Linked DNA regions of Homo sapiens: region 2 is linked to region 1. Evidence: fine-mapped expression QTL. Tissue or cell type: blood mononuclear cells. Region 1 holds a variant in brackets; the other region holds the start of a gene. All regions are shown on one strand. Distances are between the middles of the regions.

Region 1 (4,544 bases):
CAAGTGATGGTGTGTATTTATACCCTAACAAATACTGAACCAATATGTAATAATAAGGCCATTTTTACAAATTTACTAGACCTTGAGGAAAAGAACATAACAATGTAACTGAGGACCAAAAGCTCCAAATTGCCCCTAGGTAATAAAAGGACACCTAGCTTAATTTTAACACTGTGATAACTATTTTGCTTTCAAATTATTATTTCATTTTTTCATGGATTTTCACACATACATAGTTGACTGGCTAAATTTCCATGCAAGTGACTAGTTATGAAAACATTAAACTACATTTAATTTGATTTAATAGATATCTGTTGATATTAATTTGTTGATTTCTTTCTGCATTGACTAAAAAAAATCATTCCTTTAACTACACAATTATTCCAGTTTATCAGTTTATCCTACACACTAATTCTCATCAAGTCACCTCTCCACCCTTCATCCACACATACATTACGTAATAATGCTAAGTTAGCCATTTACCTCTTCAAAGTAAACTATCTTAAAAAATATATTCCTTTAATTTTTTAACAGGAAAATAATTTCGTGGTATTAGATACTTCCATCCCCAAAGCAGGAACTATTTACTTTGTTTCTCCATTTCCAAAAACAAGTTTTAGTAAGACCCAGAAAGTCTGCTTACAACCTTGAATGGACCATCACAGTGTTAGGTCCAGTCTTAATAACCTCGGGGAGACTGGCTTCTTTTGAGGACTAACCTATAAGACAAAATGAGCCTGAAAATTCCAGGAGTACAGTATAGACTGTATCTCTTAAATAGGTGTTGGTGTTTAAAGGACACTCTTGACAGAAAACTTCCTGAGACTTGGTCAAATCTACTTTGGGACCCACAATAGTGACCTGAAATCCAAAGACGGGATGTAAATTAAACTGATCTATATAAGCAGGGAGCAACATTGTATTCAGCATCCTTCATAAACTCCTTGACTTTTTTTCCTACCAGAAAACATGATGATCCTCCCCAACGACTGAATCATTTACATTTTGTATATTCATAGAAGCACAAAACGAATACTTTCAACTTCTGCAAATGTGAGACAAAAAGAAATTTATTATTCCATACATTTCAAAAAATGTTTTGAAAGGGAACATTATGGTCATATAAATAATACCGATGGTGAACAACAGAATGAAGAATGACTACTTAAAGCCAAACTATGCTAAATCACAACGTCATATGCATATTTCATTCAAGCACTGAAGTCAGTAGGTATGAGGTCAGGATAAAACGTAACACCAAATTCATCATCTTTCCTTACTTAAGAATTGCATTATATTTTTAAACCATTTTAACCATAAGTGAGTATCTTTAGATGATAAATATTTTGATGACACAGATAAAGAGGGGGAAATTTTAAATATGAGAGCGTAATTAAATGCATTTATAAATTTGATATATACTAAATACTGTGGTTTTGTATATGATACTATGTAATTTCAACACTTTATGAATATATCTGTTTCATAAAATATTAATACATATTACTGGACCTAAGAAAACAATCCACACTAGTAATACTGTCCCATGATATTTAATTCACTTTTGTAAATGTTAACATTAATATTTCATAATTTTAGTAACTCTCCTATTAAAATGCCGAAATTTAACAGCATAAAAGACAATATACATACAACTTTTTTTCAATATCTAAAGATACTGAGTTACTTTAAACTCTTACTCATTGTCTCTTCAGAATCAAATGTCTGAATGATAAACATTAATTGGTATGGTTATGGTAGAGGATGGTGTGGAAGGGAGCAATAAAGAGAAAAACAGAAGACAAATCAGGGGTACTTACTATTATTAGATCATATACATTTGAAGAGGGTGAAAATAAACGAAGTATTGTGTGATCATAAAAAACGAGCTATTAGGGCATTACAGTGACTCATTCTACAAGAGTTAATCAAAGACCCAAGAAAAAATTGGAAGGGATGGAAGGGAATATATGATTGTCAATGCACAAATCTTATTAATGCATAATGCAATTGTAAGAATTCTATAACAGAAATTAATACCATTTTATTTTACAACACAGAAGTGCATGTCTATCATTTTCCTATTTCTATTAAAAGTATGGAGTCTTCTTTCCAAGTCTGCAATAAATTATACTGTTACTTTAGATATATTTTGTTAATTTATTTAATTTGGATCC[G/A]AAAATTTCCATAATAAACTACTGCCAGGATCATGATTGAGGATAATCTGATGTGTAATAAGTTGCTGAGAACCTTTTTATTTCTAAATGGTGGTTCTCTACTTTCTTCACTCTACCTGTGTGTTTTTTTTCCTCCCATCTCTAAAAACAACCAGAGATAACAGTGATATAAAACAGTTAATGCTCGTTCCAGGAAAGTTCCAAAGCACCAAGTTTCAATATAAATGGTACTTACAAATTTTCCATTTTTCCTTAAGCCCTCCCTCCATGTTTCTTTCAAACATCATTTAAATTTGACTTTTGTTTAAAGTATTTCCTTTTATATGTCCCCATACTCAATCTTGATATATAGATATCCACATATAGATATCCAGATATAGATATCCACATATAGATATCCAGATATAGATATCCACATATAGATATCCAGATATAGATATCCATATCCATAACTACATATCATAATTTCCCCTAGACTATTTTGATTGTCAGTATAAATGCGTTTTTGTGGGGAAATAAATGTCCCTCTCTGATATACCTTCTCATGGTCCTTCAGTATCTTGGAGCAATAATCCACTCCTCATCCCATTTTTGTTGTAAATAAAGCTGTGCGACACTGAGGTAATTGATTTGGGGTGCCAGTGACAATTAAATAGGTAAACGCATACAGAGTTTAGTTTGGCAACTATTAAAATATCAACACATTAAGAACTTGCACTCTAAAACGTAGTTACTATAGTTGTCTCCTATAAGAATTCAGATGTACCATGGGTCAAATCATTTCTCAAAAACTATAATAACCACACCCCAAAGAAGGCTAGATGTGACATGATAAGCTAGAAAAAACTCTTGTTATTGCAGTCTCTTAAGTCTGTCCAAACAACCTACATTTGTTATCTACTGTAGATGTGATAGAAGTTCCCTACTTGTCTGGTTCGATATTTGTAAGTCAGGGGTACTGAATTAAGAACTCTTTCCACTCTTTCCATGAGAAATGTTACACAGATTACATAGTGGTAGAGTGTAGGGCAGCTTCCTGAGCTTTCCATAACTCAATGTTCTGCTCTTGAGAGATTTGAAAGCTGATGTAATTTACATTATTCATTAGCAAATTGGAAGCCATAAGATTGGTTACAGAGTGGCATCTGGTGAGATTTTCTTCCAATAATTGTTTGCAGAGCTAGTCCACCTTTCTTTCCATATAAGTATTAAGCATAGAATTAGAGAGGGGCTGTTTATGAAACAACATACTTTTTTCTTGGCTTTCATCCCCATTCAATAATTTTGAGGTAGGTAATGTCTCTAGAGGCCCAATGACAGGAGAATGACCCAGTGGCCTACCAACTGAAAACAAAAGGGGACCATTAAAAACATCATTATGTGTGTGTTCCGTAAAGCAGCCTGAATCACACATGTTCCTCACATCGTCACCTCCAATCTGTAGGTCAGAATAATTGTGACAAATACTCATACACAACCAGGATCTATATAAATCTAGTTGTCTTTGATCATGTTTTTCTCTCTTTGAAATGGGCAACGCAACTGACACATTTCCTGGAAGAGGTAATACCTTTGCATTTTGCTACAGTTGTCTCATCCACAGATTTTATTTGATCTGTATCATCATTTTGCTCTGTTACACTTTCTTTCCTAGTTGTTTCTTGATTTTCCATCTTAGCAGAGGAAAGTGAATTTTCTTCTCTATCTAAAATCTTCTTTTTCCAAGTTTCCTTTTCAGTCTTCTTACATGTAAATGGTTTGCAAAATTTTGCATATTTCTGTTCTTTGTACAGAAGATCAATTAGGAAAGCTTCTCTAAGCATTTTGTTAGACAAGTTTTACAAAGTAAGTTTCTAGTATATTCCTGTAATATAAAATAACTCATTAAGGCAATGTACATTAAAAATGTCAAATAAGTATTTAACTCCTACGTGAAATAAAAGTAATTTAGGGAAGCCGTGTTGCTCAAAGTTTAGGAAATAGGACCAGGAATAACTAAACCTGGGTTTCCGTTCTGCAATGAACTTTTAACATAAGCTAATTTATTTAACATTTTGCGGTCTCAAATTTTTCAGCAGTTAAATGATGATACTGCACACATCATTTAATGAATCTTCACGGGACTATTGTCAGTGTAATATTATATGGTGCACATGCAAGTGTTAGAAGTACAAACATACAAATGTATAATTATTATATTCAACTATCTTTAAGGGTTTATTTAGAAATGATAAACTTTCTATCTTCAAAGAGTCTACTTAAAATGAAGGCAGCTGTCAAGGAATTGGTTTTAACTATCCTTTTTAATTAATGTCATTTGAGTCATAGATTGAAGTAAATTACTATACCTTAGAATGTATATAAGAT
Region 2 (4,000 bases), 160 kb after region 1:
TCTGAATCTAAAATAAAAGTTGAAATCTAAATAAAAAAAAAAAGGAGTCCAATAAAGGAAATAATAGAAGACAGCAGCCATTTCTAAGGCTCTTGGAAACTTAAGACTTAACAAAGAGAGGTGCAGTTATTCTTACTTGAATAGAAATTCTGAAAGCAGTTTCTTGTTGAATCTACTTTTAAAGAAGGGGTAGAGGAAGGAGAAAGCAAAGAATAAATAACAGTATTGAAACTGTATGACTCCCAAAGCAAAACTAACTGCCTGATCTGTTCAGTCTCATTAGGGGTTTAACTAAAGGCATTAAGTTGGACTTTACAATTATTGGATTGAGTTGAGACTCTGAGCAACTCAAATTTTACTTTGAAATATTAGACAACATGTATGGAAAATAATAAAGCAAGAGGCTCATAAAATTAGGTCCAAAGGAAATATAAAAGGTGTTCTTTTTTTTAACCTAAACTTATTCAAAAAATGTAAGATTAAATTTTCTGATATTCCAAAATTGCATAAACATATCCACACATGGTGGCCAGAGAAGACAAAGTTCAAATATCAAGGTTCTTGTGATTTAACATAACCTCCACTTCCATTCCACATCCTCTCAGGTGTAAATAAACAAGCCAAAAAATAAAAACACACAACAACCTGGATTAGCTGCTGCTCTAAAGCTCAAGAAGAGGGAAGGGGTTCCTATACCCTACAATCTGAACCCACACATCTGTTCTTGCCACTGTCTGCCTTTCTCTTGAGTTGTAAAAAGCAGAAGCACTTTCATTTATCATGGATATACACTCATCTTGCACCCCAGTTTATCATATTCTCCCGACAGCTGCTGAAAATTTGTTATTCTAAATTAAGAGTAAGTGAATCCATGAAAGAGAAAGTCCTATCATTTGAAGCAGCAGCAACTCAGGCTGCCACTACACAAGAAGCCACTGAGCTCCCTATCCAGTTCTCAATATACTTGAAGCAGTGAGAGAAATTTAAAAGTAAAATATTTTGAAAGAATAGAAACAGTCAAAATAAGGGACAATATGGGGGGAAAACTGAATCTCGTGTCATATTAAGTTAAAAAAAAATTTACGTCATTGTTACCAACTTCCCCTCCCAATTTGTCTAGTTCTAACAGGCCTTCAAGCTCAAGTTAACCACTTTCTTCTACACACTCTCAAAATAACTCTATTACCAGGGTCTCACTCACCCAGAATAATTACAATGCCTCGGTAGGCCTCCACTCAATCCCCACCAGTTACAGCATGTGTACCCCCATCCTTTACAGAAGTGCACTCCTCCTTGTCTCAGTACTTAGGGCGTATTCATCAAATGTCTCACTCTTGAAACTCACCAGTGTGCGATTTTACTTGACTTCACGTAACCCTAAAGACCGTATAGCACCATCTCCCATCTCCCAAAACTTGGTAGCTTTCGTTTTCCTTCAAAGCAGAAATGTGCCCCCCAACGTCACGAAGCAAACAAAGCTGAACTCTATGTGGAAAAAAAAAAAAATGAAATCGATGCAACAAAGGGAAAAAAGGGAAGAAGAAGGGTGGGATCGGGGATGCATGAGTCTTCCAAAGGAGAAGCTGCCAGAGGAACTTCTGCATTTTAATGGTTCTGGGGCAGCAGAGGACTGGTGTGTAGGAAAACAACAAAGGTGGACTCCCCACTCTCCTTACCGCTGTAGAGCCAGAGGAAGATGCAATATATACACGGATCACCATCCTGGGAACAGCGGCTGCGGTTGTTTGGGTCCTGAAAAGGGCTGTGGAGCAGCTGCAGCAATGGCTGGAATCCAGCTAGGGGCTGAAACAGCGGTTGGCAGAGAAGGGTGGGGGAAGGTGGAAGGAGAACTCGCCAGAGCCCCGCCTCCGCCTTTAGCAGCTTCCACCGAGCTCTCTAAGCGCTGCAGTTCCAGCCCAAAACCCCGGAAGGAACAGGCTGTTTGCATCAATTCTATTTTTTTTTAATAGGGAATCTCGAATAGCACCGCGAGATCTGTTGAAACATTGATTTTTGACGATTCCTTCCCTGAGAAGAGGGCGAGGAGAAGAAGAAAGAAAAAGGAGAACTGAATTGAATTAGATTAGCATGAAGGACCTTTTCACGCGGAGACTAAAAGTACTGCGCATAACTTCCTGCTCAGAAATATATGCAAATAAGAAGACAGATCCTGAAAGAGCAAGCTGTATGTTGAAAACCCATGTTCTCAAAGCCTTGCGCATTTTAAGATTCCTATTACGTAGTGATTTTTCTGATCTTAGCTCGTTGTAGGAATTAGGCACTAAAGTACTGAGCAATGCTGCAGAGTTTTGAAGGAAAGTTTCAGGTTTCCTTAAGCCCAGAAATGGCAGGATTGGTTTTCTTTTTGAATTTTGTGTTTTGTTAAATTAGGGAACCCTGCTTCCGTGGGAATTTGCAGGAGGCCTGATTGGCAAGTTTAAGAATGAAGGAATAAATTACAAAGAAAAGATTGAAAATATTGTGTAAAAAGATGGATGATTTTTGTTTTGTTTTGCTTTTTAACTGACTGAAGTAAGGGATTTGGGAGAACATATTGCAGATGTTGAAATGGTGAAGAGAGAGATCAGATGGTTATTTGTAGCTCTAAGGAAATGAGCAAACAGTTAATAATGTCCAGAGACAGACCATATACTTCAAAGTGTAGTTTTAGGTTCCCAGATTATGTTAAATGAACAGAAAAAAAGGAATTTGCAAGATGAATGAGAGTGGAGAGGAGTCAGTCGCTTGTCCTACTTCTTTTCCTTTGCTGTTTTTCCACTGTCTCCAGTCTAGTGGTTTACTGTCTTTGCCTAGGCTCAGTGCTTACAATAGCTTTGTTAACTGTTCCCTACCCACAGGTTTTCCCTTCTCCAATCTGTCTTAAATACTAATTCCAAATTAATCTCTTTACATGTTGTCCTTAAAACAACCTCAAGAGGTGGGTACTATTACATTAATTTTACAGATGAAGAAACTGAAACTCAGAAAAATAGTTTTCCTAAAATCATATGGTTAGTACATTCCAGAGTTAGGAACTCCAGAGGCCACCTTCTTATTTTTTTTTAATTATACTTTAAATTCTAGGGTACATGTGCACAACGTGCAGGTTTGTTACATAGGTATACATGTGCCATGTTGGTTTGCTGCACCCATCAACTCGTTGTTTACATTAGGTATTTCACCTAATGCTATCACTCCTCCAGCCCCCCACCCCCCGACTGGCCCCGGGGTGTGATGTTCCCTGTCCTGTGTCCATGTGTTCTCATTGTTCAACTCCCACATATGAGTGAGAACATGTGGTGTTTGGTTTTCTGTCCTTGTGATAGTTTGCTTAGAATGATGGTTTCCAGCTTCATCCATGTCCCTGCAAAGGACATGAACTCATCCTTTTCTATGGCTGCATAGTATTCCATGGTGTACATGTGCCACATTTTCTTAATCCAGTCTATCACTGGGACATTTGAGTTGGTTCCAAGTCTTTGCTATTATGAATAGTGCTGCAATAAACATACATGTGCATGTGTCTTTATTATAGAAAGATTTATAATCCTTTGGGTATATGCTCAGTAATGAGATTGCTGGGTCAAATGACATTTCTAGTCTAGATCCTTGGGGGATCGCCACACTGTCTTCCACAATGGTTGAACTAATTTACACTCCCACCAACAGTATAAAAGCATTCCTATTTCTCCAAACCCTCTCCAGCATCTGTTGTATGATTGCCATTCTAACTAGCATGAGATGGTATTTCATTGTGGTTTTGATTTGCATTTCTCTCATGACCAGTGATGATGAGCATTTTTGCATATGTCTGTTGGCTGCATAAATGTCTTCTTTTGAGAAATGTCTGTTCATATCCTTTGCCCACATTTTGATGGGGTTGTTTTTTTCTTGTAAATTTGTTTAAGTTCTTCGTAGATTCTGGATATTAGCCCTTTGTCAGATGAGTAGATTGCAAAAATTTTCTCCCATTCTGTAGGTTGCCTGTTCACTCTGATGA

What was found. PIP is the estimated chance that this variant, and not a neighbour inherited with it, causes the effect. A credible set is the group of variants that fine-mapping cannot tell apart.
Region 2: SH3BGRL starts here. The variant in region 1 is the best candidate, but not a certain one, in a credible set for the expression of SH3BGRL in blood mononuclear cells (TOPMed, PIP 0.61).

The regions. Positions count from the first base shown.
Region 1 is chrX:81,362,724-81,367,267 of GRCh38, reverse strand. LOC105373284 (a long non-coding RNA gene) reads right to left here. Exons shown (of 2, transcript XR_007068280.1): 2 at 1,053-4,041. Among named protein-coding and RNA genes, the nearest start is that of SH3BGRL, 160 kb to the right of the region's middle. The variant G/A (reference allele first, on the strand shown) is at 2,178.
Region 2 is chrX:81,199,922-81,203,921 of GRCh38, reverse strand. It overlaps SH3BGRL (SH3 domain binding glutamate rich protein like), which reads right to left and starts at 1,820. Exons shown (of 4, transcript NM_003022.3): 1 at 1,677-1,820. The coding sequence starts at 1,721. HMGN5 (high mobility group nucleosome binding domain 5) reads left to right here and starts at 2,009. Exons shown (of 7, transcript NM_030763.3): 1 at 2,009-2,185. RefSeq lists enhancers at 1,625-1,794, 1,915-2,164.